Linked DNA regions of Homo sapiens: region 2 is linked to region 1. The links come from fine-mapping of genetic effects on gene expression. A gene starts in region 1. The other region holds a variant in brackets. All regions are shown on one strand. Distances are between the middles of the regions. Region 1 holds the start of PYGB (glycogen phosphorylase B). Region 2 overlaps PYGB (glycogen phosphorylase B).

Region 1 (15,374 bases):
AAAGACACCATGGAAGAAGCAAAGAGCCTCACCAGGCCCCAAACCTGCCGGCATCTTGACTGCACACTGAGAAGGACACTCCATCCTTAGACTTTTCAGCCTCCAGAACCGTGAGGTTGTAGTAGTCCATTTTTGCATTGCTCTAAATACTTGAGACTGGGTAATTTATAAAGAAAAGAGGTTTAATTGGCTCATAGTTCTGCAGGCTGTATAGCAAGCGTAGTACCGATATCTGCTCAGCCTCTGGGGAGGCCTCAGGAATCTTACAATCATGGTGGAAGGCGAAGGGGAAGGCAGGCAGATCACATGGCCAGAGCAGAAGCAAGGGGTGGGGCGCACACTTTTAAACAACCAGATTTCGTGAAAACTCACTATCTTAAGAACAGCATCAAGGAGATGGTGCTAAACCATTCATGAGAAATCCACCCCATCATCGAGTCACTTCTCACCAGGCCCTACCTCCAAAACAACTCAACATAATCACAATTCACCACGAGGTTTAGGTGGGAACACAGACCCAAACCGTATCAGAGGTCTTTGTGTTTTGTGCGGATGTGAAGCTCAGTGCCTGGCTGGCAGTAGGTGCAGTGCAGATGGAGCCAGTGTGTGATGAATGAAGGAAGGGTCCTTTGCTGGTGGGGTCCGGGTCTCACCAACCTGGTGTCCCCTCGGGGCCTAACGGGTGGGAAGTGGCCAGATGGAGGACTCCTCCTGGGTTGTCTGAGAACACTGGGCCGGCGCACTTCGGTGGCCCAGAGGCAGTTCCTAGGTACACTTGCTTTCCAGCGCCATTTCCACAGGTGCTGTGCTCATCCTTCTCACTTTAATTCAGGCTAGCTGGAGAGAGCCAGGCTTTCTCAGTGTGAACTTAACCTGTCCTCTGGAGAGGCCGGACATTTTAACAGCCAGGCCTGTGGGTGCACTGGAACCTTCCACTCAGTGCTATGCTGGCAGGTTTGTGTTGGCCAGATGGGTGGGAGGACCCCTGAGCGTCTAAGTGACGATTTCATCCCGGGCCTGATACAGACTGAGCAGGAAGTGGTGGGGTGCAGACATGCATATCGGTGGCTCAGCCTGGCCTTCTGAGCCCTGCCTCTTGGATGAAACCACCCACCTGGTCACTCTGGGGCAGCGAGGAGTGCAGCCCAGTGCTCAGCTCCACAGTGACCACTACAGCTCCCAGGGTGGGCCCGTTTAACATATACCCTCTCCCCCAAAGTCAGGACATGTTTCTGACTTGTAAGACAGAAGGGTGGTGGCCCTAGGCTGTGACCAGCTTGCTATCTCTTTAGCATGCTAACCTGTCCCTTACTAACTCCTGTCAGGGGAGGGCTGGGGCAGGGTACCAGGCCCACTCTCGTCCCAGCTCTGGGACTCATCTCGCAGTCATTCAGTAGCGGTGGTTAGGCCTAGCTCACAGATGCCTTGAGGCCCCCCCAAGAGTCCCTGTGCCCCCATCCACATACTGGGGAAGTCCTGCTAGAACCGGGCCACTGGGTTAGAAAGGCAGCCCACCCTATGGCAGAGATTCCCACATTGCACAGTAAAAATATGCCCTAGAGATGGCCGAGCGCAGTGGCTCGTGCCTGTAATCCTAGCACTTTGGGAGGCCAAGGTGGGTGGATCACCTGAGGTTGGGAGTTCAAGACCAGCCTGACCAACATGGTGAAACTCCATCTCTACTAAAAATACAAAAATTAGGTGGGTGCCTGTAATCCCAGCTGCTCAGGAGGCTGAGGCACGAGAATCGCTTGAACCTGGGAGGTGGAGGTTGCAGTGAGCCGAGATCCTGCCATTGCACTCCAGCCTGGGCAACAAGAGCAAAACTCCGTCTCAAAAAAAAAAAAAAAAAAAAGTGCTCTGGAGGTGCTCACTAAGCAGGTGGAATTCTGGGTTTGGGGCTTTGGGAATGTGCTAGTCACAAGCCCTGTGGAGAGTTTTTATTTGCAAGTTTGGGAAACTGCCTCAAGTATTATCTGCACTTCTATAAACTGTGTCCTAGAAGCCTGTACTATGTTATTATGTAATGTAATATACTACATATGTTAGTGTATAATATACTGCGTTATGTTATAGCAGAGTAAGTGATGTTTGTCCTTCTTGGTGCACTGAATCAGACTCATAGTGTGGGTTTGTCCCCTGGGTGGCAATGCTAAGTTGTGTCACTTCATGAGGCTGGAGTCTGCCATAACTCTCCATTGCAAATCCCTTTTCCCTTTTATAGCTAATAAAGATAATGTGTAGGGTGAGGCTTTGAGATGGAATGAATCCCCTGTTCCCCTGTGGCCGTTGTCCAGTAGTTCTCAGAATCTCCTCCTGCATTGATTTGGCATCCTGTAGAGAGGAGCGGCTTCCTTCTTCCCTATCTCCATTTCATTTCTTCTCAGTATCACTCTGGTCTCATAGATTGTGGGGAAAAGAAAGAGAGATCAGATTGTTACTGTGTCTGTGTAGAAAGAAGTAGACATAGGAGACTCCATTTTGTTCTGTACTAAGAAAAATTCTTCTGCCTTGAGATGCTGTTAATCTATAACCTTACCCCCAACCCTATGCTCTCTGAAACATGTGCTGTGTCAACTCAGGGTTAAATGGATTAAGGGCTGTGTAAGATGTGCTTTGTTAAACAGATGCTTGAAGGCAGCATGCTCATTAAGAGTCATCACCACTCCCTAATCTCAAGTACCCAGGGACACAAACACTGCGGAAGGCCGCCGCAGGGACGTCCACCTAGGAAAGTCAGGTATTGTCCAAAGTTTCTCCCCATGTGATAGTCTGAAATATGGCCTCGTGGGAAGGGAAAGACCTGACCGTCCCCCAGCCCGACGCCCATAAAGGGTCTGTGCTGAGGAGGATTAGTAAAAGAGGAAGGAATGCTTCTTTGCAGTTGAGACAAGAGGAAGGCATCTGTCTCCTGCCCCTCCCTGGGCAATGGAATGTCTCGGTATAAAACCCGATTGTATGTTCCATCTACTGAGATGGGGTAAACTGCCTTAGGGCTGGAGGTGGGACATGCGGGCAACAATACTGCTCTGTAAGACATTGAGATGTTTATGTGTATGCATATCTAAAGCACAGCACTTAATTCTTTACCTTGTCTATGATGCAGAGACCTTTGTTCATGTGTTTATCTGCTGACCTTCTCTCCACTATTATCCTGTGACCCTGCCACATCCCCCTCTCCGAGAAACACCCAATAATGATCAATAAATACTAAGGGAACTCAGAGGCTGGCAGGATCCTCCATATGCTGAACGCTGGTCCCCTGGGCCCCCTTATTTCTTTCTCTATACTTTGTCTCTGTGTCTTTTTCTTTTCCAAGTCTCTCGTTCCACCTAACGAGAAATACCCACAGGTGTGGAGGGGCAACCCAGCCCTTCAATAGATTCTTTTTCCTTTAATGTCAGTGTGTTAAAATCATTAATGTCACTAAGAATATCTGTTGACACACCCCAGTGGAGGGAGGGCATCAGTTCCACAGTGTCATTCCAGCTGGTGGGCTCTTTATTCCCTCGAGCTTTATAATTACCAGCCTCTCAAAAATAATGCATTTGTTATTTATCTCTGTTTCCTGAAAGCCTGGGTCTGTGTTCATTTGCAAACACGAAATTGACCAGCACAGATCTGCCAGTGGCGTTGCTGGGATCCCAGAGAGATTTTCCCTCCGCACCTGCGGTCTCAAGGGCCGGCGGTGCTTCTGAGTCACTCATTTCACCAGCGATCAATGAGACACTCTTCAGGTCCTCAAGAAGCTTAAGCCTAGCCGACCAAAAATGTCTGTTTTCCACACCCCGCTTCTAAGTCCCACAGCATCTTCTTCCATTCACAAGACATCTTTCATCTCTTTTTCTGAGGCAGATGACAGGGGACTTGCTACAGACAGAATCTTAAATACCTATTTAAAGAACTTCAGGCTGGGCACAGTGGCTCATGCCTGTAATCCCAACACTTTAGGGAGACCGAGTTGGGTGGATGGCTTGAGCCTATGAGTTCAAGACCAGCCTAGGCAACATAGAGAAAGCTCATCTCTATAATAAATACAAAAATTAGCTGGGCGTGGTGGCATGCACCTGTAGTTCCAACTACTTGGGAGGCTGGGGTGGGAGGATAACCTGAGCCTGGGAGATCGAGGCTGCAGTGAGCCGTGATCACACCATGGCATTCCAGCCTGGGCAACACCATGAAACCCTGTCTCAAAAACAAAAAGATAAAAGAACTTTAAAGGTAATGTATTATCTCCAGCAACACAGAATAGCTCCCTACAACAGTAACGAAACCAGAACCAGCATCCATCCCTTCTTAGTGATTTTTTAAAAATTACCTCCCAAAAGGAGAAGACAGAGACGTAGAGGACAGTCTAAAACAGGGATTCCCTGATGCTGAGGTTAGCAGATGCTCTGGCCTGATCACTGCTCTGATCCAGGCTGCCAGAACAATCCTTTCTCTTAGAAGGGCAAAACTGCTTTTCAGCTTTATATAAAATAAAAGCATAGCCCAATTTCTTTCCATTTTGCCTGTTCTGAAGCCTGGCAGTTTTGTTGCTAAAATGGAAGATGAAGCTGAATCCAACTCTTGGTTATTTACAGAAGGAAAAAAATCTTTTCCCCAGCCCATGTTAGGGTCTCCAGCTAGGGGGCCTCTAATTACACCAGCCAAAGACAATTCAATCAGGCAAGAAAAAAACAAGTTTATTGGCATGTGCATTGCACTTACATGTGGCAGTACCTGGCAATGAATAACCCAAAGTGTGGTCAGGACTTGGGTTCATCTATCATCTTAGGCTGACATAAAGGAAAAGGCCTGGAGCTTCTGGGCAGGGGAGGCATGTAGTGGGAAGGTGTCTTGGTCTATTTGTGCTGCTGTAACAGAATGCCACAGACTGTGTAATTTATAAAGAAAAGTGGCTTATCTGGCTCATGGTTCTGAAGACTGGGAAGTCCAAGAGCATGGCATTGGCATCTGGTGAGGGCCTTTATGCTACATTGTCCCATGGAAGGAGGGTGGAAGTACAAGAGAGGGTGAAAGAGACAGAACAAGAGAGGGTCAAACTCATTTTTATAACAACCCACTCCCACAATGGCATTAATCTATCCTTGAGGGTGGAGGCCTCATGGCCTAATCACCTCTGAACAGTCCTACCTCTTATACAATGGCAATTAAATTTCAACATGAGTTTTGGAGGGTATATTCAAACCTCAGCAGAAGGTGCCCAGGAAAAGTATGGTAAACAAGGGTTGTTTAGGAAGGTTTGTTATGCAGACTTAAGTCAGTACTTTCTTCCACTGATAAGAGTTGTTACAAGATATCCTCTTCCTTGCATGGAAGAGGGAGACGTGGAAATTTCCTTTATAATAAATGTGAATTTTTTTTACAAAATGAAAATGGTTTTTAGAGCCTTTCCTGTGGTCTGCTGGTTCTTAATGGCCTTTAATTCAAAATAATCCACATGCGAAGAGGCATATTTTGGGGTGGTGTATCCCAATGCCCCTCAGATGCCTCTTTTGTGAACTGTCCAAGTGGATGCCCACCTCAGGACCTTTGCATTTGCTATTCCCCCAGATTCATTCATGCCTTTTTTTTTTTTTAGATGGAGTCTTGCCCTGTCGCCCAGACTGCAATCTCGGCTCACTGCAACCTCCACCTCCGGGTTCAAGCGATTCTCATACCTCAGACTCCCAAGTGCTGGGATTACAGGCATGCGCCACCACGCCCAGCTAACTTTTGTATTTTTGGTAGAGACGGGGTTTCATCATGTTGGCCAGGCCGGTCTTGAACTCGTGACTTCAAGTGATCCACCCACCCTGGCCTCCCAAAGTGCTGAGATTACAGGTGTGAGCCACTGCACCTGGTCCATTCTTTCATTTTTTTTTTTTAGTCTCAGCTGAGATATCACCTCCTGTAACTAACAGCTCAACCTGCTTTTCTTTACAACACTTAAAACTATCTAAAAATTATTTATTTGAAAATGATGGCCAGGTGCGGTGGCTTACGCCTGTAATCCCAGCACTTTGGGGGGCTGAGGCGGGCGGATCACCTGAGGTCAGGAGTTAAAGACCAGCCCAGAAACATGGTGAAATCCTGTCTCCACTAAAAATACAAAAATTAGCTGGGCATGGTAGTGAGTGCCTATAATCCCAGCTACATGGGAGGCTGAGGCAGGAGAATTGCTTGAACCCAGGAGGCGGAGGTTGCAGTGAGCGGAGATTGCACCACTGCACTCCAGCCTGGGTGACAGAGCAAGACTCCATCTCAAAAACATTAATAATAAATAAATAAATAAATTACCTGAAAATGGCTGAGATAATTAATACTGGGACTCATTTAGCCACTTCAGCAATATTAGCGGCCAGAGGAGGTGAGGAGACATGATGGTGAGAGGGCTCCTTCCTGCGTCAACCATGCGCATTATGAAGAGTCACATCATGAAGATTCAGTATTGGACTAAGTGCTGCAGGAGAGGGGAAGGACCATGGCAGCTCCCAGGAAGAGGAAATGACATCTGGGTAAGATAACTGTTAAAGAAAAAAAATAATCAATAGCATTTGTTAAAGCATGGTACCAGACTTTATTCACAACCATCATGATAGGTACAGGGACCACTGCAACGGGATCTTGCAGCAGGGGAGAGAGATTGGGCTCAACTCCGAAAACAGCATGGGCAAGTGGGCATTTATAGCCAAGGACTGGGGGAGGGGTCAGTGGATGGACAGTTACTAAGAGGACACTTCAGGGGTCCAGGTGATTGTGTCTAAACCACCTCATAGGATTCCTGTTGAAGGCAGGCCAGGGTGATTGGACAGCATGGGGGATGGTGGAGCATGGGGAGCCTGATCAGATGTCACCAAGGGGGATCAGACATCAGGGGCAGGGAATCCTGCTAAATTGACAAAGCAGGGATTGCTAAAACAGATGTCACAGGGAAGTGTATGATGGCCCTACAAGGCTCAGAAGCCTGACTAGAGTTTGGTCAAAGAATTTTTGTCAGGATCATGGAAAATTTAATAAAGTGTAGCTATGAAAGAAAGGACTTAAAATTTATTTAACCAGAGTAACAAAGAATTAAAAGTCAATCCAGTAAGAGAATATATAGGCCTTAAATCAGCATCCATTAGTGAAGTCTGTGGCCTCTAGTTTTTCTTACTAAAACTTACTCCACTTACAAAAGAAATATTGTGGAAAAAACAGGAAATACAAAATGTATGGAGAAAATAAGATAACCCCCCTGATAATTCTTCCATTCAGAAATAACCAGTGTTTAGGTTTGGATATACACCTGTGTTTCTAACACAGTAGTCCCTAGCCACATGTGGTTATTTAATTTAAATTTAAATTGACTAAATGAAAGTAATATTCAAATCATTACTGTCATTTCTGCATTACATCCTTATTTTTGTGTTTCATTTATCAGTATTGTGTCATCAATCACACCTTCCTAGCTAGCTATTAAAACAGTCATTCCTTTTAGCAGCACAATGGTTTATGATATTAACTTTGAGCACAGATACATTTTTCTGGGCTTGTGCAGTGGAGCAGGGCTTGGCTGGGGTGAACCTTGGCTGTTTCCCTTATTAGCTGTGTGGGCTTAGGGAAGAGTTAACTTCTCTGTGGCTCACCTTCTCCATTGTCAAGCGGGGGTAATAGCAGGCTATTTGCAGGGATCAGGAGTTAATACGTGTACACTGCAAGTAATGATCAATAAGTGTCAGCGCCTCCATTCTTTGCCAGGTGTGCACCACAGCTGGGGGATTAAACTTTACCACACCACAGCAGATAACATATTTGCATAACTTGCTTTTTGTCTTCTTAAGCTTTCCTTGAACTCAATTCCCCAGAGTGGTAGAAGTGGTCATAGGGCACTATCATTTTTATGACTTCTGAATTGCCAGATCACCCTCAGAGAGATTGCATCAGTGTTCGGAGCTTGCAGCCAAGCTCGACCCCACAGCCCTGCCATCTGTGCCCGAAGTTCGATCTTGTTGGCTCCAGAATCCCTAGGACATAGTGCAGGAGTGAATCCCGAGCTGGAGCTGGGTGGGCTGTGGGGTCATTCCAGATTGATTAACCTCCGACCTCTGAAGTCTGCAGCTGGAAGGGGCTCCAGGTAAGAAGATAACTTTGAAGCATCACACCAGGAAACCTACTGCACCTGGACTTTCATGACATTTCCTGCGGGCAATTTTTACCTCCACGAAATTCAGTAACCTTTGCAGCCCCTTCAGCCCAAGACCACCAGGAGCAAACCTGTGGTCCACAAAATCGGGTGTACTGACCCACTGCAATGAGGGAGCGCCTCCCAAGAACGAAGGGAAAGGCAGAGTTTGAAGGGGTTGAGGGAAGGCAGAGTTTAGGTGACCTTTACATGAAGCAGGGTTCCCACAGGCTGAGGCCAGCAGGACTGTGTTCCGCGGGGCCAAGTGTGGGAAGCTGTGTGCAGACGCCCCCTATCTGGAGCTGCAGCCTGGATTGGGATGACAGAGGCTAAGTCTCGGTTAGTGGCTGAGCTCCCCGGCCAGACGGGCATGTTTCCTTCTCCCTGCTGTAATCTCAAAGCGGACAGCGTCTGCCAGGTGGTTTCGGGAACAGGGTTTCTCCGAGGGCTAGGGGGCTGCGGTCCCTCCGAGGCGGGGTCGTGGTGGCATTTGGCTGTGGCTGCCTCGCGCCCTCGGGAACGGGCGTCTCCAGCTCGCTGGCAGCTGGTTTTCTCCACGTCTGTCATCGGCCTGGAGTGGCAAGCAAATAGCTGGTATTTTCAGAGCCGCCCTGCCCCGGACAGAGAAGACCGGGCCCAGCAGGCGTTGGTGGATGCCTTTCAAGCTGTAATCAGTTTCCCCGAACGTGTACCAGGTCTCGGCCACAGCCCGAGCCCAGCGCGCTCCCGCGGGGCACCTGGTGACCCGGTGCAGGGCGGGAGGGCCGGTCCCAGGAACCCGAGGGCCGGAGGGCAGGGCCCCCTTCCCGCACCGTCCCCGGGCTGGCAGGAGCGGCCACGACGGCACGCTCCGAGGCCCCGGGTCCCTTGCCCCCTCCAGTCGCTCCCACTTTCTGCCGGGCTTGCCCAACGAGGGGGCAAACACCACGCTCAGGTGGCGTGGACAGGTCGCTGCCGCCTCGGACTACACCAGAGATCTCAGCTATGAGCCTGGACGCCCGCCCCGCCCTCCCGAGGCCCCGCCCCGCCCCCCGAGGCCCCGCCCCGGCGCGGCGCGCAGGCGCGGTCCATCCCGCCCGCAGAGCCGCAGTGCCGGGCGCCAGAGCAGCGGCGCCAGAGCAGCTGCACCATCCCGGCGTTCGCGTGTGCCGCCGCTTTCCTCCTCCATCTCTTTTCCTCCGCCTCCGCCGGCGCGATGGCGAAGCCGCTGACGGACAGCGAGAAGCGGAAGCAGATCAGCGTGCGCGGCCTGGCGGGGCTAGGCGACGTGGCCGAGGTGCGGAAGAGCTTCAACCGGCACTTGCACTTCACGCTGGTCAAGGACCGCAATGTGGCCACGCCCCGCGACTACTTCTTCGCGCTGGCGCACACGGTGCGCGACCACCTCGTGGGCCGCTGGATCCGCACGCAGCAGCACTACTACGAGCGCGACCCCAAGGTGAGGCGCTGCCCCGCCCTGTGCGCCCGTGCCCGCTGAGAGGGCGCCGGTCCCGGAGCCGCGCCAGCGGGGGTCTCTGCGGGGCGGCCCGTCGGGCGTTACCTGCGCCCCTAGCCGGCCGGCGGCCAGGCACAGCCGACTGGGGAGTCGCCTGGAAGCCGCAGTCGGCGGGGCCCGGGCGTCCCCTGCGCAGGGCCGCGGCCACGGGTCCGCCCCACTGGGAGCCCGCGCCTGGCGGGGTCCGCCGTCCCCCGCAGATGATGCTGAGCCCGGGAGCCTGGCGGACGTTCCCGGTCTCTTTCTGGCCGTGCGCTTCCGCGCTGGCTGCAGAGCCGGTGCTCCCCGCCCCTGCCTCCAGCCACTCTTTGTTTTCCTGCAGCAGCCTGTGGGAGAAAATGGGACTGGAACCAGGCCTGGGCAGCCTTGTGGGTTGGAATGGGGTGAGCTCGGTAATCTGCAGGGAATTGTGAGACTTTTTTTTGTGTACGCTGCTTAGAAGAAAATCACTGAAGATGCCTGCTTCACGCAGGGAGGGGTACGAAGCTCAGAGATGGAGATGGAGCCCTCGAAGAAGGCTCTGTCTTAGAGGTTCCCACACCTCCCTTGGAGAAATTTGCTTGGGTTGAAGTTGACAGAGATCATCTTACTAATTGTTACTTTTTATATCTTGCAAAAATTTGTTTGAGTAGTGAAACAAAGTCACTGATTGTCCCCGTTACTCTTAACCATGTTTACTATGGGCCTGTGTTCTTGCTGTGTTTTTGGTATTCCTAAATATACATACACATTTTTAAAAAGTATAATGCACATACAGTTTTTTAGATTTTCTGTTTCATTCGTAAACATTTGTAACTTTTTCACTGATAAACAGCTTTGCAGGTCAATGGATAGGATGGTAGTTTTCAGTTTGATAGGTACATGGTAGTCTTGCACAGCCCCCTGTTGCCAGTTTTTTGTTGTTGTCGTTTGCTTTTAAACTCTTGACCATGGAGAATTGTCTTTCTACTACACTAACGTAGAGGGAGAACTGGTGAGGAAAAGACACACTTCCAGACCTGAAGCCACTTGGCAAAGATTTTACTTGCAGTGTACATCTAGGCAGTGAGCACTTGCTTTATGGATGGTATTTTAGAATATTTTTGTAGGGCATTAAGATATGTTTAATACGGTAATTGCTAAGAGATTGACTGCTTTTCCAAACTTATTCTGGGACATTCTTTTTTCTAAAATGGAGATGGTAAAAGGGACAGATTTGTTAGAATACCAACTGGGGCTCTTCATATTTGGTATGCAAAACATAGAAGTGGCAACGAATGGCCAAAACAGGTTATAACAAGGGCTTGGGATGACTTTGCCAGGAAAAGCAGCCAAGAAGCAGTGGCTCCCCCAGAATTCCCTGCTGTTGGGAGAGTTCTGATGCACAGCACCATTTTTTTTTTTTTTTTAATTCTGAGTCTTGCCCTGTAGCGTGAAGCTAGAGTGCAGTGGCGCGATCTCGGCTCAGTGCAACCTCCGCCTCCCGGGTTCAAGCAATTCTCCTGCCTTAGCCTCCCAAGTAGCTGGGATTACAGGCGCCTACCACCACGCCCGGCTAATTTTTTGTATCTTTAGTAGAGACGGGGTTTCACCATGTTGGCCAGGCTGGTCTCAAACTCCTGACCTCGTGATCCGCCCGCCTCGGCCTCCCAAAGTGCAGGAGTTACAGGCGTGAGCCAACGCACCCGACCCGCAACATCATTTTTATTGTCTAAGTGGCGGATGGCAAGGACATAGCTCTGCCTTCACATTCAAGGGCATTTCCTTGGAGCTGGACCAGGACTCAGCTCTACACCTTAGGGTGCCCATTGGAGTATTTATGTATAATCACATCCTGGAGAGGCCAGCGATGGGCTCAGGGATTACGGAAATGACCTTCATGAACAAGATAGTCCCTGCAACAAAACAGGTTTTTTGATCCTCCGTGAGATCTCTTTTGATTGTCTACGTGTGGTGGCTCTGGGTGGAAACCTTTCTCTTAAACCGCACAGTCTGTAAGTCGTAAAGTTGTAAACTTTTAGATCTCACAGTGTGTAAATAAGCTGTGTGCCTATTCTGAATAGGAAGGACATGGAAAATTGGGATTTAACTGCTTCTTTCGCTAATTCATGATGAAAATAAGCTTGCAATCCTTTCTTTGGAAAAGTTACATGCTTGCTGGTGATGGACCAGCAACCAGTCCCACCAGAGCCAATGAGAGGAGGTGTGCTCCCAAGAAAATAACTGCTGTGCCTCCCCCTCAGCCAGAAATGACCTCAGACATTCACCGGCACACTGCAGACTGTGGTAATGTGACACTCTAGAGCTCCTAAATAGAACGCTTTTATTGTTATTTTTGTCTTTTTTTAAATTATGCAAGTCCTGAAGGAAAAATTATTACTGGAGGAAAAATTAGAAAATATAGATAAGCCAGAAGGAAAAAAATTAACTGTAATCCTGTAACCCACTTCTATCGCCCACTTTGTGCTGTAAATATTTTGTGTTCTACATTGTTTTTTCCGTATTGGCAGAAACTTGTTTTTAATACATAAAATAACATTATACTGAACCTATTGTTTCATAACTCTTAGCACTTTATTTGTGGTACATAGCGAAAGAGTAGAAGTTGGGGTGTTCAGAGGAAGATTTGTCAAGCTTTGCCATGCTTGGCAAATCAGCACGTCAAAACATCTGGCTAACATGGAGAGCTTTGTGCTTGGCAAGAGGTGGCGGTTGGTCATGAAGACATTTAATGGATTCTCTGAAGTGGTGGCAAGGTGGCAAGGAGAGTCCAACCTGAAGCTGCAGAGCCTGGGATTGCGCTGCATGGAGAAGAAAGGGTGTGCGTGATTCCACGCTCCTTTTCATCCTGGCCTTTCCATTCGGTCTGTGCAACTGTGGGCTTGGGCGGATTTCTTTGCCATTATTGGCCTCAGTTTTCTCATCTTTAAAATGAGGGGAATCAAGCTGGTGATGTTTCCGAAGTCTGTTGCCATTCTGAAATGTTAGAGTTAAAATGTTTCTATTTCATATTGAATTGACATTCCATCTCTATCCAGAGAGAATTTGAGGATGCTTATGCTAGATACAGCACAAAAGGTTCACATTAGAAGGCCTCAGAGTGAGGGTTGGGGTGGGACAGTGAGGGTCAGGACACAAAACACAGACCAGGATCCTGGCAGTGAAAGCAGCCCATGCCCAGTTATGAGAGTCACGGGATCCCTTCTATAACATCCTGAAAGGACAGTTGCACGGTTTATTCTGTGGGCCTTTGTGAAGCTGTGTTGTCGATGTGCTGAGCCACTGACCTGCAGCACCCCTGCAGTGGATGTAACAATCAGTTTTTGAGACTCTTCCCATAAGCTCCTGGCATGACTACAACACAGATTAAGGAAAAGCAGCTCTACCTTGGGGCCCACACTGCTGTCCTAAATATTCCTAATGAGATAAACACAATGAAATACGATTAATCTTTTGGTTTGGCTGGACCCAGGAGTTAAAGAAGATGATCTAGAGAAGTGTTTTGCAGACCCTTCTGCTCTGTGATCCCCACTTCTGGGATTTGTTTTAATTAGTCAGTTGTGGTACCAGCCTCCGGAATCCTAACACTCCCAATTTTTCTGATGTATTTCCACTTTTATGTGTGAAGTTGAGCTTGCATCTCCTGGGCAGGCTTCCCTGACAGCAGATCGCTCAAAGTCATTTTCTCTGACCAGTAGCTGATGGTGGGTGCTGTTTTGTGTTGCTGACAGCTAGCCACTTGGAAGGTAGGCCTCAGCTGTCATTTTAGCAGATGGAGAAGCCTACAGTGTGTGCCTTCATTTTCTGCAGAAGACAGCCTGGCCTCTGCCCTTGCAGGCTGTGGTGGCTGGTTTTATGTGTCAACTTGGCTGTTGTGCCTAGATAGTAACGTGGATGTCCCTCTGGGGGGGTCGGGGGGTGGTGTTTCCCACACTGACTGAGCATCTTACAATTCAGTTCCGTTCTGATGCTGTCTACCTAGATGTAGCCTCGGATCCCACAGGCTAAAGGCTCAGTCCCACAAGACTTCTCCACCCCAGATGTCAGTTGCACATCAGGACCTCCCTTCTGACCTCTGACCGACAGCCTCCTCAGGTTTGATGATTTGCCAGAATGGCTCATGAAACTCAGGGAAACACTTCACTTGCGTTTACCAATTACTTACAAGGAATACAACCCAGGAACAGCCAGATAGAAGATATGCAGAGGGCAGGTCTGAGGGAGGGTGCAGGGGCTTCCATTCCCTCTGCAGGTGCCACTGTCCCAGCACCTCCAGGATTCACTGAACTGGAAGGAAGCTCTTCCATCCCCTTCAGTTGGGGATTTTATGGAGGCCGCAGTTACCTAGTGTGATTATTGGCCATTGGTGATGAGCTCAGCCTTTAGCCCCTCTCCCTTCACTGGAGGTTGGGGCTGGCGGGAGGGGTGGGCCTGAAACTTCCAACCCTCTAATTAGAGCTGGTTCCCCTGGCAGCCAGCCTCTGCCCTGAGGGGCTTGCCAAAAGTCACCTTTTGGTGACCACATCAGGCGTGGTTGAAAGGGACTTGTTATGAATAACAAAAGACACTTCTTTCATTTTTATTGCTCTTATCACTTAGGAAATTACAAGGGTGTTAGGAGCACAGGCCAGGAAGAACAAATAAGTATATCTCATTACATCACAGTTTCACAGCCTCCCATGGGGGAAGGCCTTGCAGAACAAACCCTGCCACCAGCTACCTTGCACCAGAGCTGCAGCTTGCCTGGGTCTCCAGCCTGCTGGCCCACCCCACTCTGTAGGTTGTGGCCTTGCACTTCAGAATCACTTGAGCCAATTTCTTAAATCTGTCTCTCTCTACACATACCTTACTGTTCTGTGTCTCTGGAGAACCCTGACTAATCCACAGGGGCCGTGGTGGCTTTATAAAATATGGCCGGGCGTGGTGACTCACACCTGTAATCCCAGCACTTTGGGAGGCTGAGGCAGGTGGATCACCTGAGGTCAAAAGTTCGAGACCAGCCTGACCAATATGGTGAAACCTGGTCTCTATTAAAAATACAAAAATTAGCCGGGCGTGGTGGTGGACATCTGCAGTCCCAGCTATTCGGGAGGCTGAGACAGGAGAATTGCTTGAACCAGGGAGCCAAGACTGCGCCATTGCACTCCAGCCTGGGCAACTCTGCCTAAATAAAATAAAATAAAATAAAATAAAATAAAATAAGGTAACCGACCTCACCTCCACATCTCAGCCATATTTCCTTTTAAACTTTATGTGATTTCAGACCCTTAAAAAGTTGCAAGAATAATACAGAGATTTCTTGTAATTCCTGTTGACGCTTCATCCGGATTCCCCAGATGTTAAACATTGCAACACACTTGTTAGGTCATTTTGTCGCTGTAAGTTCATTTTTCTCCGAATCATTTGAAAGTAAGAACCAGCCTGACCAACAAGGTGAAACCCCTTCTTTACTAAAAATACAAAAATTAGCCAGGCATGGTGGTGGGCGCCTGTAGTCCCAGGTACTTGGGGGACTGAGGCAGGAGGATTGCTTGAACCTGGGAGGAGCAGGTTGCAGTGAGCTGAGATCACGCCACTGCATTCCAGCCTGGGCAACGGAGCGAGACTCTGTCTCAAAAAAAAAAAAAAAAACTGAGTCATAGCCTTGTTGCCCCTTCACCCCCAAAAACGGCAGTGAGTACTCCGGAAAAACAGGGAAGCTCTCCTACACACCCACAGTAGAGCAGTTAAACTCTGGACATTTTAATCAACACA
Region 2 (15,374 bases), 42 kb after region 1:
CAACATGGCCCACCTGTGTGTGATTGGGTCCCATGCTGTCAATGGTGTGGCGAGGATCCACTCGGAGATCGTGAAACAGTCGGTGTGAGTGGGGCGCTTGCCCGAGCGGGGCCAGCTCTGTCTGACACCCAGGCCTGCGTCTAGGACCATCCACCAAACACATGGACCCAGCTATATAGCATACAACCTGTGCCACTAGGCCCCTGCCTCCATAGGAATGACAGAGCTGCCCAGAACACCCTGTCAGGGTCACGCCTTGTTGTGCGTTCACCGACCAGCACACGGGGGCCTCTGGAGGGCTCTGGCTCTGCGGGCAACGGGGAGACGGCTTTGTCTCCTGTTGCTCTCCTGCGCCCCTGCCTTCCTGGGGGTCCAGTCGGAGGCTCTGCACCACTGGTCCACCTGCCGCTGGCAGGGCTTGGACAGGGCTTGAAGGTGGGATTCTTAGGTCAGATCTTGTTCTTGCCCCTCTTAGGTGGGGCGTGATCTAGGAATTACTCCCACTCTTTCACGTAGCATGTGCTGAGCACCTACTGTGAGTACTGAGCAGGCAGCAGCCGGCGGGAGCGGAGGCTGTGCCCGGGGCTGGGCTGCAGGCTCTGTGCGTGGCGCCCGCAGCAAGCTTCGTGTCGGGCCCCTCCCCAGTAGCTATGAGGAAACCGAGCGCAGCTTCTCAAGCCCTGAAGTCCTGCGGTCTCGGCTGTCATGACTTGGACACCTGTTTCCGCACGGACCGCTCTGGAGAATGGCCAGGCTCTAATGCCTGCAAGGTTGTGGTTGGGCAAACCGCACAGCCAGCCACAGATGCCCCGGGGTGCAGGTGCTGCCTTCGTATGGCTCCCAGAGCCTGCAGCTGCCGCGGTCACTCTGTTCTCCTTAGAAAACAGAACAGAACCACTGAGCTTGAGGGCTCCTGGGACCTCCTTAAAAGGACTTTAAGGTCTGTTGCTCACCTGGTGCAGGGCACAGCATTTGTGACAGTTCCCTGTTCTCTGTGTTTGCAGCTTTAAGGATTTTTATGAACTGGAGCCAGAGAAGTTCCAGAATAAGACCAATGGCATCACCCCCCGCCGGTGGCTGCTGCTGTGCAACCCGGGGCTGGCCGATACCATCGTGGAGGTGAGTCCCGGGCCCCACCCGTGCCTGTGGAGATGCCTGGGCTGAGAACCGCGGGCCATGTCATCAGCCCCTGCTGAGCGGTTGCTGAGTAGGCAGGAGTCTGTCCCTCACGTGTTGACCTGCAGGCTTCTGGACATGAGGGCTGAGCCCCTGAACATGGGCGCTGAGCTGGGCAGTCACCCATTGGGCCTGGCGGGTCCTGTGTGCGAGTTCAGAAGCCGAGCTTTAGGGAGGGCTGGGGTGTGGCTGAGTGCAGCCACGGGGCCACTGCAAAAGAGTCAAGAGGCAGCTGACTGCCAGCTAGGCTGGGCACCTATTTCCTGTTTGTATGTTGGCTCCTATGCAAGCTCCCTGAGGAAATGAGTGCTGAGGTGTCAGGCCCTGCGCTACAGGCAAGGACCAGCCGCTGGGAGGGTGGGACCGCCCACCTGGGGCTATGGTCAGGGAAGCCTTCCCAGGAAAGCTGAGGTCTGAAGAGGGAATGAAGAGAGAGTGAGCAGTGCTCTGGGGCAAACTGGTTCAATGCCCTGTGCTGGGGGACGGGCCCCTGGGACCTGGAAAGCAGCGTGGCTCCTGTGCAGTCTGAGATGGGCCTGGGTACAGTGAGGAGAGGTGGCCGAGTGTTTGCAGGCAGCACCTGGGTGAGGTGCTGGCTTTGAGGGGACCGCCTGCTTCAGGCAGGGAAGGTGCTGGTGGAGGGCAGCGGGAGGATGGCTTTGGGTTTTGGGTGGTGATGGGATGTTCAATGTCAGAGAACCCTGGGATCGGTGGCTGAGGGAGGGTCGTGTGTTTCCTGTGGACGTTTGAACTGGTGGGACTGGGCCATCTCGCAGAGCCCTCTCAGAAGAGGAAGGAGGGGCTGCTGGGGTAACCCTGTGGCCTGAGAGGTGGGATGCCCGGAGGGGCCGGACAAGCAGATCCCAGGGGAAAGCAGGGGCGTGGGCAACAATGGGAGGAGGGCAGGTGGCTAGGGGGCCCAGCCTCAGGAGGCTGAGGCCCACAGTGAGCGGAACCTTTACGTTCTCCAGAAAATTGGGGAGGAGTTCCTGACTGACCTGAGCCAGCTGAAGAAGCTGCTGCCGCTGGTCAGTGACGAGGTGTTCATCAGGGACGTGGCCAAGGTCAAACAGGTAGGCATGGCCCTGGCCCCAGCCCCGACCCCAGCCCTCCCACAACCAGGCAGGTAGGCCCTGGCCCTAGCCCTCCTACAGGCCCAGCACAGGTCCTGGGGTACCCACTGGGGCTTTAGTGGGGACTCAGAACAGGACTGAGGGTGAGGCTGTTAGGGTTGCCTGAGGTCTCTCCACCCCACTCAGCCTTTCAGATGAGGGCCCCGAGGAGGACAGGTCACATGGCAGATAGGTGAGTGCAGACCCCAGGCCAGCCCTGCCCGTGCCTCGACCCTCTGCCACAGGTCAGTTCTGTATGGAAGCCTCTAGAAGCCGATTCCAGCGTGGTACCCTCTTTGCCCCTGGAGAGCTGTGCAGGTGCACGAGCTGTCTGCACCGGCAGCAGCCTCTCGGCTAGACCAGGGCCAGTCACGGCAGCCTTCAAACCTCAGCGGGCTGGAGGCCCATCTACACAGCCTGTCGAGCTTGGCCTCCTCATAGAGGCCAGAACTAGTTCTCCTTGTAGTCCTTTCAGCCGTCCCGCTCCCGCGCTGCTCCGCCGCCTGCACGCCTGGCTCTGCAGTGTCTTCTGCTTGGCTCCAGGCGTGCTCCTGGGCCGGCTCCTCACTTATCCCCTACTCTTGGTGTGGACCCACCTTCAGCATCCCCCTCTCCCCTTTTCCCATGAGAAGACCCCTGGTGCAATCTCTGCCCCTCAGCTCCAGCCTGTATACCCCTGCCCCCTCCCTGCGGCACTCTTCACAGGGCACTTGAAGCAGGAAGCCGCAGGGTCAGTGGATGGAGTCCTGGTGAAGTCTCCAGCCATCTTTCCCTTTCACCCTCCCAGGAGAACAAGCTCAAGTTCTCGGCCTTCCTGGAGAAGGAGTACAAGGTGAAGATCAACCCCTCCTCCATGTTCGATGTGCATGTGAAGAGGATCCACGAGTACAAGCGGCAGCTGCTCAACTGCCTGCACGTCGTCACCCTGTACAATCGTGAGTGCCGGCATCACCTGCATGACCGCGCTGTGGGGCCCAAGGCTTGCCCTTGCCCGCCAGCTGTGCACAGACCCTGGGCCTCTGTCATGGTGGGGGCTGTGTGTGTATAGGCGTGTGCATGTGTGATGTGGCACGTTTATTTTAAGCAAAAGCCATGTTTTTCTGTGTGCCCCATGCCAGGCCTCACGTGAGCAGGTGAACAGTTAGACACCCGAAAGGCCCAGGCTGGAGTGCAGTGGTGCCATCACGGCTCACTGCAGTCTTGACCTCCAAGGGCCCAGGAAATCCTCCCACCTCAGTCCCCCAAGTAGCTGGGACTACAGGCGCACGCCACTATGCCCTTGTATTTTTTGTAGAGACAGGGTTTCACTATGTTGCCAAGGCTGGTCTCGAACTCCTGGCCTCAAGTGATCTACCCACTTCTGCCTCCCAAAAGGCTGGGGTTATAGGCATGAGCCACTGTACCGGGCCTTCAGTTTTTATTTTAAATTTAGTTATTATCTTTGTGAGACTAATCTTATTTAGAAAGATTATGCTTATTAGAGGCATTTAAAGTATACTTACAAAAATTAAGATAGTATGTGTTAAATTTACACATGCATCTTATATGTCTAAGGACATTTAATTATGAGACAAACATGAAACAGAGACCCCCAAAGGTCAATGTGAATATTTGCTAGGTTTAATAGATAATGAAACCTTAAGGAAAAACTAGGTTTCTAAAATTTTGTAATTTAATAAAGTAGGTATTTTAAAAACCAAAGGAACCACACATCCTCCTTTCCGATACAAAGCTCCTCCCGGGAATAGATCTCCTATTCCCAATGAGTAAGCCTCGATGGGGTGGAGGATCTGGGTGCGTTTGAGACACACATGGTAGGACAGAGGCTAGAGGCCACCCCCGCTGAGGACCCCTCTGCCGTGTGGGCACCACGGGAGGTGCTTCCCGGGGCTGTGGCTTCCCGGCTCCGAGATGGTGCACGGGAACTTTGCATCATCTTTCCTTGCCCCATTTTCCTCCTGCAGTTGTGATGCTCTGTGTTCCCCTGGTGGTGACCCGGAGTCCTCCGCTTGCACAACGCTTGGTCCTATTGATGAGCGGCAGTGAGACTCGCGGGTCACCCCCTCCCTTCCTCCCGCTCCACCACCCCCACAGTCAGTTGCTGCATCGTCTTTTAGTGTTGGCCTTCAGGCTTTCCTCCTCCCGCTCCGCCACCCCCAGTCGTCAGTTGTTGCATCGTCTTCTATTGTTGGCCTTCAGGCTTTCCAGATGCTCCACTTCTGCTTGGTTGGTTCATTCGTTTTGAACGACACGCTGTGATTTCCAGCCGTTCACAGGAGGCAGCCAACAGGCTGGTGCTCGCTCCCACTGGTCTTCCCCCTTGCTCCATGTCTGTGTGTGCACGCATAAATGTATATGTGTGCATGCCTGTAAACATGTGTGCTTGTGTCTGTGCATGTACCTGTGGTGGACCTGCGTCTCCTTCCCCCACTGTCAGAGCTCACAGCATCAATACTTTGCCCTTCCTCCTGTCCCCAGCTGTATCAGTTTGAGTCTGGTGGTGAGTATGTTCACTGCTTCTCACGGTCCTTCTGCAAAGTGCTGCCCAGCCCTGCTGGCCACTTTGTGTCTAGTTCATGACTGGCTCATGGGAACAACCTTCCCGAGTTCTTGCTTGTTCAAAACGGCCTGGACCCTTCACCATGAAGGTCGGTTTGGCTGAAGATGCCAGTCTTAACTCCACTTCCTTCCCCCAGTGCTTTTTAGGGCCCTACCGGGCACTGTCTGGAGGGTGGGTGTGTGTGCAGAAGTCTGGCGATGTCTGAGTTCTCGATCTCATCAGTGACTCACTGTCATTGCCGTGTCTTGGTGTTGGCCGTTACAGGGCATTTTCGCCAATACTCCGGGTGCTTGTTGAACGTGTTGCTGGACTTCAGGGAAGTTGTCTGTTTGAAACGTGTGTTTGGTTCTGTTTGGTTTTCTGCTTCTGGGCTGCAGTGTGGCGTGAGGTGGCTTTCTCTGGCCTTCTTCCTTGGTGCCTACTTCTCTCAGGACTTGGTTTGTCCTTGTCCTGTGGAGTGGCACTGCTCTCTGGAGTCTCTGCCGGCTGCACTCTCCTCCCGTGCCCTCTGCTCCTCTCCTCTGCTCTCTGCCCCCCTCCCTGAGGACTTGGCATTTGGCTCCATGTCTTTCCAAGTTGGTGGTCACCAAGGGTATGTGATTTGCGAAGGGGTTCACTCCCCTCCTGTGGCCTGTGGCGGGGCTGGGTGCTGACTTCCATTGCTACGTTGGTGTGAGCTGGATCACCTGGGGCTATTCGGAATAGGCTTCTCAGCCCTCCAAGGCAGCTCCTCTGCTGGGCCAAGGCCATGCTTCCCCAGCCTGTGGCTGCGCCTCTGCTGTCTCTCCGGGTCTCACCTGGGCGGGAGGCTCCTCTGGAGGCCAGGACCTGCCTTGTGAGGGTGCCCTTGTGGGAGAGGCGCTTGCCCAAACCTGCTGTTCCCCGGGGGCTCCTTGGTGGCCCCCAGGACTGGAGCTCTCTGCCCAGAGTGCCCCTCCCCAGAGGTTAGGACTCCCATGACCCTGTCCCCTGCCCACTGTGACCTGGGGTTTGCATGGTTTCCTTCTTTCCTAGTTGTGGTGAAATCATCACTTGTGTGTTTCGTTTTTCCTGTTCTCTGCTGATTTCCAGAAGTGACAAGATCCAGCATTTAAGGGGCAGCTGCATTCCTCCTGGAGCCTGGGGCTGGGTGGTACACATCAGCCCGACTCCCTGCTGCCTCACCCAGGCCCGGCTCGCTGGTGAACGCCTGTCCAGGGTGGCCGCTCATCCCCTTTTTGTAGGAACCTCCCGTGAAATCTGCAAACAAATGACCTGGCGAGGACAGCCTGTTTGCTGGGCTGGCAGTGAGCCGGCCGTCATGGCTTGACCCTCCATCCACTTCTGTGAAGAACTTTGGGGGCCCTCACCCGCTGTCCCAGTGAGGCAGAGGGGAGACACAAGGTCTCACCCAGCGCCCCTGCAGGCTGATGGCACCACAGCCACAAGGCTGAGGTTGCCACTTTTTCTTTGTGTCATCCAAACAATGTGTTTAAAACACAATTTAAGGCCAGTGTGGTGGCTCACCCCTGTAATCCCAGTGATTTGGGAGGCTGAGGCCTGATGACTGTTTGATGCCAGGAGTTTGAGACTGGTCTGGGCAAAAAAGTGAAACCCCATCTGTACTAAAAGTGAAAAAATTAGCTGCATGTGGTAACCTGTCGGTGCCTGTAGTCGCATCTACTTGGGAGGCTAAGGAGGGGAAGATCACTTGAGTCCAGGAGTCTGTGGCTGCTGTGAACCCGGATTACACCACAGTACTCCAGCCTGGGTGGCAGAGCTAAACCTTAACTCTTAAAAACAAAAACAAACAACAACAAAAAAAACCCAAGAGTGGTAGAGTGCGAGGCGCGGTAGCTCACGCCTATAATCCCTGCACTTTGGGAGGCTGAGGCGGAAGGGTTGCTTGAGCGTGGGAGTTTGAAACCAGCCTGGGCAATGTAGAGAAACCCTCATCTCTACAAAAAATTAAAAAATTAGCTGGGCGCAGTGGCACGTGCCTAGGATCCCAGCTACTCAGGAGGCTGAGGTGGGAGGATTGCTTGAACCTGGAAGGTAGAGGCTGCAGTGAGCTACGCTTACACCACCGCACTCCAGCCTGGGCGACAGAGTGAGCTGCTGTCTCAAGAAACAAAACCAAACAAAACCCACAAGTGTGCCCTTCATGTACAGGGGCCTTGAACACTGGTGACCAGACCCAAGGAGGCTCCTGTGTTGGGCTTTTCTGGAAACTGAGGTGCAGCTTTTCCTCTGAGCCCCGGGGAATAGCATCTTTGCTCGAGTCAGCTGCTGGGTTCGTCCATGGTCCTGGCTGGCCTTCCTCACCAGCGGGGAACCTAAGTGCAGACCTCAGGGTGGCCTCACTCCCTTGTAAGTGGCAGGTTCCTGGTG[G/C]GTGGGCAGGTGGGTGGCCAGTGGCCCTGTGCCACTGTCACCCGTGTCTCTGGGGCTTGAAGTACATGGCGGAGCGTGCCTGTCCTGCCTCAGGGTCGGCCTCTGATGCTGCTGGGCCCCAGCAGGGGCTCGTCCGGCTCGCGGTGCCTTGTGTGAGTCTCTTCCGTGTGTCCTGCAGGAATCAAGAGAGACCCGGCCAAGGCTTTTGTGCCCAGGACTGTTATGATTGGGGGCAAGGTGAGTGACTTCCTCTGCAGTCCTCTCTGTGGTGTTTGGTCTGGGGATAGTGGGTGGGCAGCCTGCACGCTTCTCATGGTGCCACCACATCCATACTCGGGAACCGGATGCCCAGCGGTCACCGGCCCCTCTGGTATGCCTGTGGGGGTGGGGACCCTGTAGAGAGTCAGAATGGGATGGAAGCCTCCTGCCTGCCCAGCTCACTGGAGGGGTCCCCAGCCTAGAGGGCCAGTCCCCAGTGGGCTTGCTGGTGCCCACCTCAGAGAGGGCAGTGTCCTTTCTCTTTGTGCCCAGTGGGCACAGGGCGTTGTGGCTGCTTCATCACCTGCACATGCCCTGAGCATTGCCTGGTTTCAGTTCACTTTATTTACTATGACACATACTTTCAGAGTCCTAGATGTGCTGTCATCGAGTCCCAGGTCACATCGTCACACTCATCAGCCCTCTGCGGCCAGTGTCCCCACCTCCTGCCATGTTTCCCTAGTAGCTTGGTCTTTATCCAGAACTGTGAGGCTGCTGTGGGGTGCAGCGTCCTTAGGAGGGTCCTGCTGGAGCAGTGGCCCTAAGTGAGTCTGGACTGTGTGAGGCACCCCAGCCCTCCACGGCAAGGCCGGGGCCTGGGGGTGCTGGTGCCTGTGTGCAGCCTGAAGGCTGCCCTCTTGCTGCCTTCAGCGAGTGGGAAGCTGGTCAGAGGGGTGGGCACTCCTCTGGGCTCCGCCACCTCCTGGCACACCCCATTTGGTCTCTGTCCACTCCTGTCACCTGCTGTTTTTGAAGCAAATTTTGGAATTGTGTCATTTTATTTGTCAGTATTTCAGTATGTAAAGTCCATAGAGATACGGAGTTCGAAAAAGTTTTAAATGTTATTATGAAAATTTTAGGCTGGGCACGGTGTCTCACGTCTGTAATCCCAGCACTTTGGGAGCCAAGGCGGGTGGATCGCATGAGCCCAGGAGTTCGAGACCAGCCTGAGCAGTGTGGTGAAACCCCATCTCTACAAAAAAGTGCAAAAATTAGCTGGGCGTGGTGGTTCATGTCTGTAGTCCCAGTTACTTGGGAGGCTGAGTAGGAGGATCGATTGTCCTGGGTGATTGAGGCTATAGTGAGCTGTGATTGCACTACTGCACTCCAGTGTGGGCAGCAGAGCCAGACCCTGTCTCAGCAAAAAAAAGAAAAAAAAAAGAAGGAAACATTTGAACCTGGAGAAAAGCAGGAAGAATTGTAGCAAAACCATAAACCTGTCACCCAGACTAGCTGAAGCATTTCACAGTAAACTGCAGACACTCTAGCTCTTCACTCTTACATACGTCAGCATTCCTTTTCATAAAATGATGTTTTCCACCAGAACCACAATGGGAGTAGACTGAAACATCACCACACAGTACCACCATCCGTCACACCTAAAGCATTGGACAGGAGTCCTCCGTGTCCTGAAATGTTCACTCGGGTACTTCATGGGTCCCCTGCCCAGTTGTCTTTGTAAAGTAACAGACATTTCTAAAAGTTGGTCTGAGTGAGGGCCCAGTGAGTCCTCACCTTGGACTGGCCGTGGTGTCTCAGTTCTCTGTAGGTTTTCCCCACAGTCTGTCTGTTACAGACATCGGGTTGTCTGTCCGCCGTAGCCTGGCTCTTTCCGAATGTGTCCCTCCAGTGTGTCCCAGTATGTCCCTAGGGACAGTTCTCTGTTTCCTGTCAGTCGGCAGCTCTAGAAATCCTGGTCTCTTTTACCTTGTAATTTCTGAAAACCTAACAACAACCAGAAAACCAGACTTGAGGCGGACACGTTTCTGGATGTGGCGAGGTGGCCACCATCGTGAGTGCGCAGCAGAGCTGGGGCCTTGGGGCCGGGGAGCCTCCCTAGCTCCTCTACTGACCGTCCCGACGGCAGGTTCCTGTGGCTCTAGCCTCACCCCCCTACAGACCCCAGGAACCAGGAGCGCCTCCAAGGGCCTGAACAAGGCATTTTTGTGCTAAAAACCTTCACCCTCTCCTTCCAGGCAGCGCCCGGTTACCACATGGCCAAGCTGATCATCAAGTTGGTCACCTCCATCGGCGACGTCGTCAATCATGACCCAGTTGTGGGTGACAGGTTGAAAGTGATCTTCCTGGAGAACTACCGTGTGTCCTTGGCTGAGAAAGGTAACCCTGGAAGCCTGTGTTGGACAGAAAACTCACTCCTGCCGGGGAACGGGCGTTGTACTGGCCCCGGGCCTTTCATCCTCAGCCAGTTCAGCTCTGCCTGGACACCCAGACCTAGCCAGCCGGGCTGCAGGCGAGCAGGGAACGGCTTTAGGGAGTGCTCCCCGTGCAGTGCGGAGGACTCACAGTGCGTCCCGGGGCGCCTTGCATGTCACAGGCAGTGTCATCCCCCAACAGGGCACCCTTACTGCCGCGCCTGCCTGGCCTGCCCTCTGTATCCTCCCTCCCCTGCCCTCTCCTCCTGCCCCTCAGCCGTGCCTTCTGCCCTGGGCCCCTCTGCTGGCAGGACCTGCCTGGCCTGCCCTCTGTACCCTCCCTCCCCTGCCCTCTCCTCCTGCCCCTCAGCCGTGTCTTCTGCCCTGGGCCCCTCTGCTGGCAGGACATGCACCAGGCCAGTGGGGTTGTGGGCCCCCAGCTTCCCCCAACTCCACTGCCCCTCCTCCGCCCACATCCTTGCTCCTCACTGCCTGCCTGCTCTTGGGCCCACCAGTGATCTCAGGTGGCAGCACCTGCCTCATCTGTGCTTCCTGAGGGCAGCCTGGGCCAGTCCTGGGGAGACCCTGGGATGTGCTGCCATGTGCCCTGGAGCCCATCAGTTCCCACCCCTGTGGGCTCTACTGGGCAGGAAAGTGATTTGCCCACCAGATGGTGGGAGATCTGAGCCTGGCCTTCTCGTGCTCCCCTCCTGCCGCCGAGGGCCAAGGGCCCCCCCTAGTTCAGGCCGCCTGGGCTTCCCAGGCTGCCGCAGGTGAGAGGGCTGATCTGCTGTTGTTCTGCAAGCTCCGTGGTGCAGGGGGGGATCCCTGGGCACCGTCCCTGTGGCCTGGCTGCTGCCTTGGTGTCCATGTCGCTCCCCCTCTTTAGTGGTGCCTGGCAGGCGAGGTCCCTTGAGGCACTCACGGGCCGGCTTGCCTCCGGCTTGGCCAGGAACTGTGGCTCGTCCTTCCCTGCTCCTCTGACCGAAGCATCTCCTCTCCCCCGTGCTGCCTGAGGCTCCCCTCCTCCTATGTGTTTTGGGGCCAGCTGACTCCTGCTCATCTTTAGAGCAGGCCTTCAGGCACCTGGTCTGGAGTCTCGGTGCTGGCGTCAGGGCCCCGTTCTCCCCGGCAGTGTTGCTGTGGCTGACTGGGCTGCAGCCTGAGGTGAGGGTGGAGAGCAGGTTGTATAGTCAGTGTGTGCACTCACAGCGTGTCTGGGAGCGGTGACCAGTCCTGAGGGACAGGCACAGAGAAAGCGCAGGGCCGTGGCATCTGGCAGCTGCTGGCGCCCAGGAGGTCGCCACCCCTCAGCCGCTCCAGCCTTCTGGCTCTATTCTGGTCTACATTCCTCCTGAAAGGATCCAGGGAGCCGCTGGGGCTGATCAAGGTCGCGGTGATCCAGGGAACGACATTGTCAGCGAGCCAGGACTGGCTCCTTGGCTAGGCCTGGTTTTGGGGAAGGTTTTGGTGCACAGATCCTATGCCACCTGGCTCCTGAGGAGCCCCCATCTTGGACCTTCTGCCTCAAGGATGCCCCAGTCACGAAGGGGAGCCCTGCAGAGGCGGGTGGCCGTGTCCAGCCTGGGCCCCTGTGGGAGCGGGAGTGGGGGCTGGAGCGGGGCCACAGCATTGGTCCCTCCACGACCCAGCCCCGGGTGGATGGGCCGGCTTGTCCTGCAGTGAGCCTTGCGGCTGAGGACATTGGGGTCCTCACAGTGATCCCCTCCACGGGCTCCCCTCCACAGTGATCCCGGCCGCTGATCTGTCGCAGCAGATCTCCACTGCAGGCACCGAGGCCTCAGGCACAGGCAACATGAAGTTCATGCTCAACGGGGCCCTCACCATCGGCACCATGGACGGCGCCAACGTGGAGATGGCCGAGGAGGCCGGGGCCGAGAACCTCTTCATCTTCGGCCTGCGGGTGGAGGATGTCGAGGCCTTGGACCGGAAAGGGTGCGAGCCTGTGCCCCTGGGCACCTGGCACCGTGAGGATGGAGAATGAAGGGTGTTGGGCTGGGGGCATTGGCTGGACTGGGCTCTTGGGGCCAGGCCACTGTGTGCTAGGGTCAGTGCCCACCCAGGGCTGTGTGCCTGCCTGCAGGGGTGACCATTTCCAGGTGCATGGAATGGACGGGGTCCGGGCTGCGGGCGAGGCCCACGTGGGGGTGCTGGGCTGCTCCTGTCTCGGCTCTGAGGCTGAATCTGCGGAGTCCAGACCAGGGGCTCCTCCTCCAGGAAAGGCCTTTTCCCCTGGGGAGGGTCTCCTAGAGGGACACCCCCTGGGCACAGGCAGCCCCACAGAAATGGGCTGGGGCTGGGCAGGACCCCACTGCCAGGGGCGCTCTGCCGGGAGCACTCTGCTGATTTGGGGCTTGCCTGCTGTTGAGGTTCCCTGGTCTAAGTTGTAACTGTTAAAATTGTTTAAAAATAGTATTTTGGAAACATTTTAAATGTGTAGGCCAGGGTCGGGGGGGGTGGGGGAGTGGGGGGGATGGGGGGGTTGGGGGGTGGCAGAGGGGAGGAGGGAATCCTGAAGACAGCACCCAGAGCTTCATCCACCTTATCCCCGCGCCCCTCCGTTGGCTGCACTGAGCTCAGAGCACTGGCCCTCCTGCAGCCCACACTCCATTCCAACTCCACCGGGGTTCTGTTACTGTCTTTCCCATCCCAGGATCCCATCAGGGCACTCCACTGTGTGTGGCCGTCAGGTCTCCCCAGTGTCATTTGGTCTGTGACAGCTTCTCAGTTTTTCCTTGTTCTTCATGATCTGGACGTCATGAGGAATCCAGCACGGGCCTGATTCCAAGCGATAATTACAAAGAAAAGGCAGTGTTGCCTGATTGCCTTGAAGCACTGGGGAGCCTGTGAGGCCTTAAGTAGGGTCAGGTGAAACCACACATGCCATCTGAAGTCAGAGCTGTGCCTTGCTGGCCCGAGCACAGAGGCCTGTGCTCCCTTTCTGCGCCCTCACACAGCTTCTTCTGCCCGGGCCCCGTCCTGGGATGCCCATGTCTGCCCGTCCGTCCCTCTCCCACTTAGCTCTGCCTTGTCCTGTCTGGTCTTGCTTGCGTTTTTCCTTTTCCATCTTCGAGGTCCCAGCCAAGGTGCTCCATTTCACTTCCTGCCCCTCCGGCCGTCTGTTTTTCAAAAGCTCTGCCCAGGATTTCACAGTGAGCCAAGTTCTGAGTGGCCCTCTCCACTAGGAATGTGGCATCAGCCACTATGTCCTAGCAGATCTGCTAGTGATGACATTTCTTTAACAGTCAAAGGAGCAGGTGGGATTGGCTTTAGACTGACTTCACATCTCTGCTCGAGCAGGTCCCTGCTCAAGGGCCTCGTAACCACCCATGGCCACTGGCTGCTGCCCTGGACCGTGCAGGCCTTGAGCTCCCAGGGCCATCCTGGGGCAGGGGCTGTGCCAGGCACCAACATGGCTTGTTCTCCAAGGTGGCCCACCTGGGGCGCTGGCTGCTGACTCCTGGCCCATCGCCTCACAGGTACAATGCCAGGGAGTACTACGACCACCTGCCCGAGCTGAAGCAGGCCGTGGACCAGATCAGCAGTGGCTTTTTTTCTCCCAAGGAGCCAGACTGCTTCAAGGACATCGTGAACATGCTGATGCACCATGACAGGTGGGACCGACTTCCCTGGTTGGGTGGCTGGGAGGGAGGGAGGGAGGGAGGGGTCCTCTTCGTGGGTTGGATATTCCACCTTGTTTGGAGAGCAAAACCCGTGCTTTCAGGACGTCTTCTCCACTGTGCCCATGAGACCTTACTGGGCAGAGCCTTAGACCCCAGCTGGGAGTTTGCGATGGCCTCTGGCAATGCCAGGGGGCCCTGGGCAGCGAGACACAGCAGCACAGTCCAGCCCCCAGGCCTTGTGGACCAATGTGCTGAGCAGGAGGGGGTGTCCTCTGCTGGTTGGAGGTCCCAGGGGCAGCCGTGTCCCAGCAGGCCAGTAGAGGGAGCATGGGCCCAAAACTCCCTGGGGTGGGGTAGGGGGCGCACAAGGGCTGCGGAACCGCGGCAGGCGTCAGTGCCAGTGACAGGCAGTGGTGAAAATGGATTTCACTTGCAACGATGTGACATTATAATGTAGTTAGTGTTTTATTTCAGTGCAGTTAGCACATGGTATGGTTTATCTAGAGTTACAGACTTTGTAAGGTTTGCAGCTCAGGGCAGTTCTTCACCGTTGGCAAAAGTTGAATCCGGCGAGGGCTGGGAATTCACCTGCCCTCCACTTTCAGCTGCCTTTGGGTTAGTTTTAGTTTTGTCTGCTGCTCTTCGATGACCGTGTCACCTGTTGGCTTCAGTCACACCAGCTCTGACCACATGCTGGGATCTGGGCTGGAACCTGGGCCCTGCTGAGGTCTGTGATAAAGGAAGTGCTTTTAAAATTGTGAACTCTGCATTTCGTGAAGTGTGCTTCTGACTCGATAGTGAACAGAAATGCATTTGTAGATTCATAAATCTGGCATTTTTGTTCAGCACATCAGGAACTGCAAGTCAGTATTTCCTGTGTAGGCAAATCCCAGTTAGACTTAAGACGGCAAATGGAGATGCCGTTCCCCAGCAAGTGCCCCCTGCCCTGAGGCGGCGCCATGGGCTCTCCACTGTCTGCCCAGGAGGCCTCTCCCATGTGCAGCTCTAACTGCCCTGCGTGTGGAAGACACGTTTTAAATGCCAGTTTATTTAAAGGAGTGTTGGGTTGAAATAAGGTTTTTCTAAAATATTGTCCCAGGACATAAGTGTTGCTCACAGAGAAGCCCTGTGGCCAAATGGGCCTGGTGCAGCCTGGCTCTGACCAGCTGCGTGGGTGGGCCCCTTCGCTCCAGACAGGACCAGGTGGATGGTGCCTGGCCTCCTGCCCTGGGACTCTCCCCTCGGGACAGTGTGGGCAGGGCTCCCTGCTGCCCTGGCCCAGCCTCCTTTCTCCCATTCCAGGTTCAAGGTGTTTGCAGACTATGAAGCCTACATGCAGTGCCAGGCACAGGTGGACCAGCTGTACCGGGTGAGGCTCCTGGGTCCAGAGGCTAGGGGAGCAGCTGGGTGGGTCCATGTAGACGTGTTGGGTCAGATTGTTTATTTCCCAAGCTGAGTAGATTCTTGGCCTGGGCCAGAGGGGTTTGTGATTCTGATCTGTCATCAGTCGGCTGTGCCTGCCTTTAGGGAAGCTGTCACTGTCAATGTCACTCCCTCCGTTGAAAAAAACAGCTCCTAATGGCCAAGAAAGGAATGTGCGGCCTGGAAACTGAGTGACGGGCAGGGCCCTGGGAGGGACCTTCTCTTCCCTCAGTCAGGGCTGGCCTCGAGGAAAGGCTGGCCTGGTGTGACCTGCAGCTTGTGGCAGCTGTGAGGCTCCCTGGTGGAAGGAGACTGCCTGGGCATGTCCCCTGGCACTGGATCTGCCTGGGCAGTTCTTACCTGGTGCTATCCCTATCGTCGTCCTGGGGGCCATGCCCTAGCAGGAATTTTCGAGGCTGGGACCTTCTCTCCAGCTCCTTGCTCCCTAGATCTAGAATGCGGTAGCTTTCCTGGTCCGTGGGGTCCCCTTTTCAACGAACAAGTGATTGTAATGTCCTCCTCTTCCAGCGGATGGCCCCAAGGCTCGGAGCTCATTTGGAAACAGTCCTAAAGTTCTGGAATCCCATGTTTTTAGCAGCCCCAAGCCCTGTGACGCCAGAGACTAATTTCATCTCCTTCCCTGCAGAACCCCAAGGAGTGGACCAAGAAGGTCATCAGG

Evidence for each region.
Region 2: its variant is fine-mapped to the expression of PYGB in aorta (GTEx, PIP 0.92).

What each region holds. Positions count from the first base shown.
Region 1 is chr20:25,238,838-25,254,211 of GRCh38, forward strand. PYGB (glycogen phosphorylase B) reads left to right here and starts at 9,248. Exons shown (of 20, transcript NM_002862.4): 1 at 9,248-9,584. The coding sequence starts at 9,342. LOC105372579 (a long non-coding RNA gene) reads right to left here and starts at 5,629. Exons shown (of 3, transcript XR_001754564.3): 1 at 1-5,629. RefSeq lists enhancers at 2,982-3,599, 9,282-9,361 and silencers at 8,280-8,533, 8,552-8,631, 8,812-9,001, 9,012-9,201, 9,512-9,891.
Region 2 is chr20:25,281,029-25,296,402 of GRCh38, forward strand. PYGB (glycogen phosphorylase B) reads left to right here. Exons shown (of 20, transcript NM_002862.4): 11 at 1-84; 12 at 1,005-1,119; 13 at 2,148-2,249; 14 at 3,076-3,223; 15 at 7,397-7,455; 16 at 9,453-9,594; 17 at 11,378-11,585; 18 at 13,130-13,264; 19 at 14,576-14,642; 20 at 15,342-15,374. It also overlaps a transcript of ABHD12 not described here. Among named protein-coding and RNA genes, the nearest start is that of PYGB, 41 kb to the left of the region's middle. RefSeq lists enhancers at 13,052-13,574, 14,620-15,141. The variant G/C (reference allele first, on the strand shown) is at 7,219.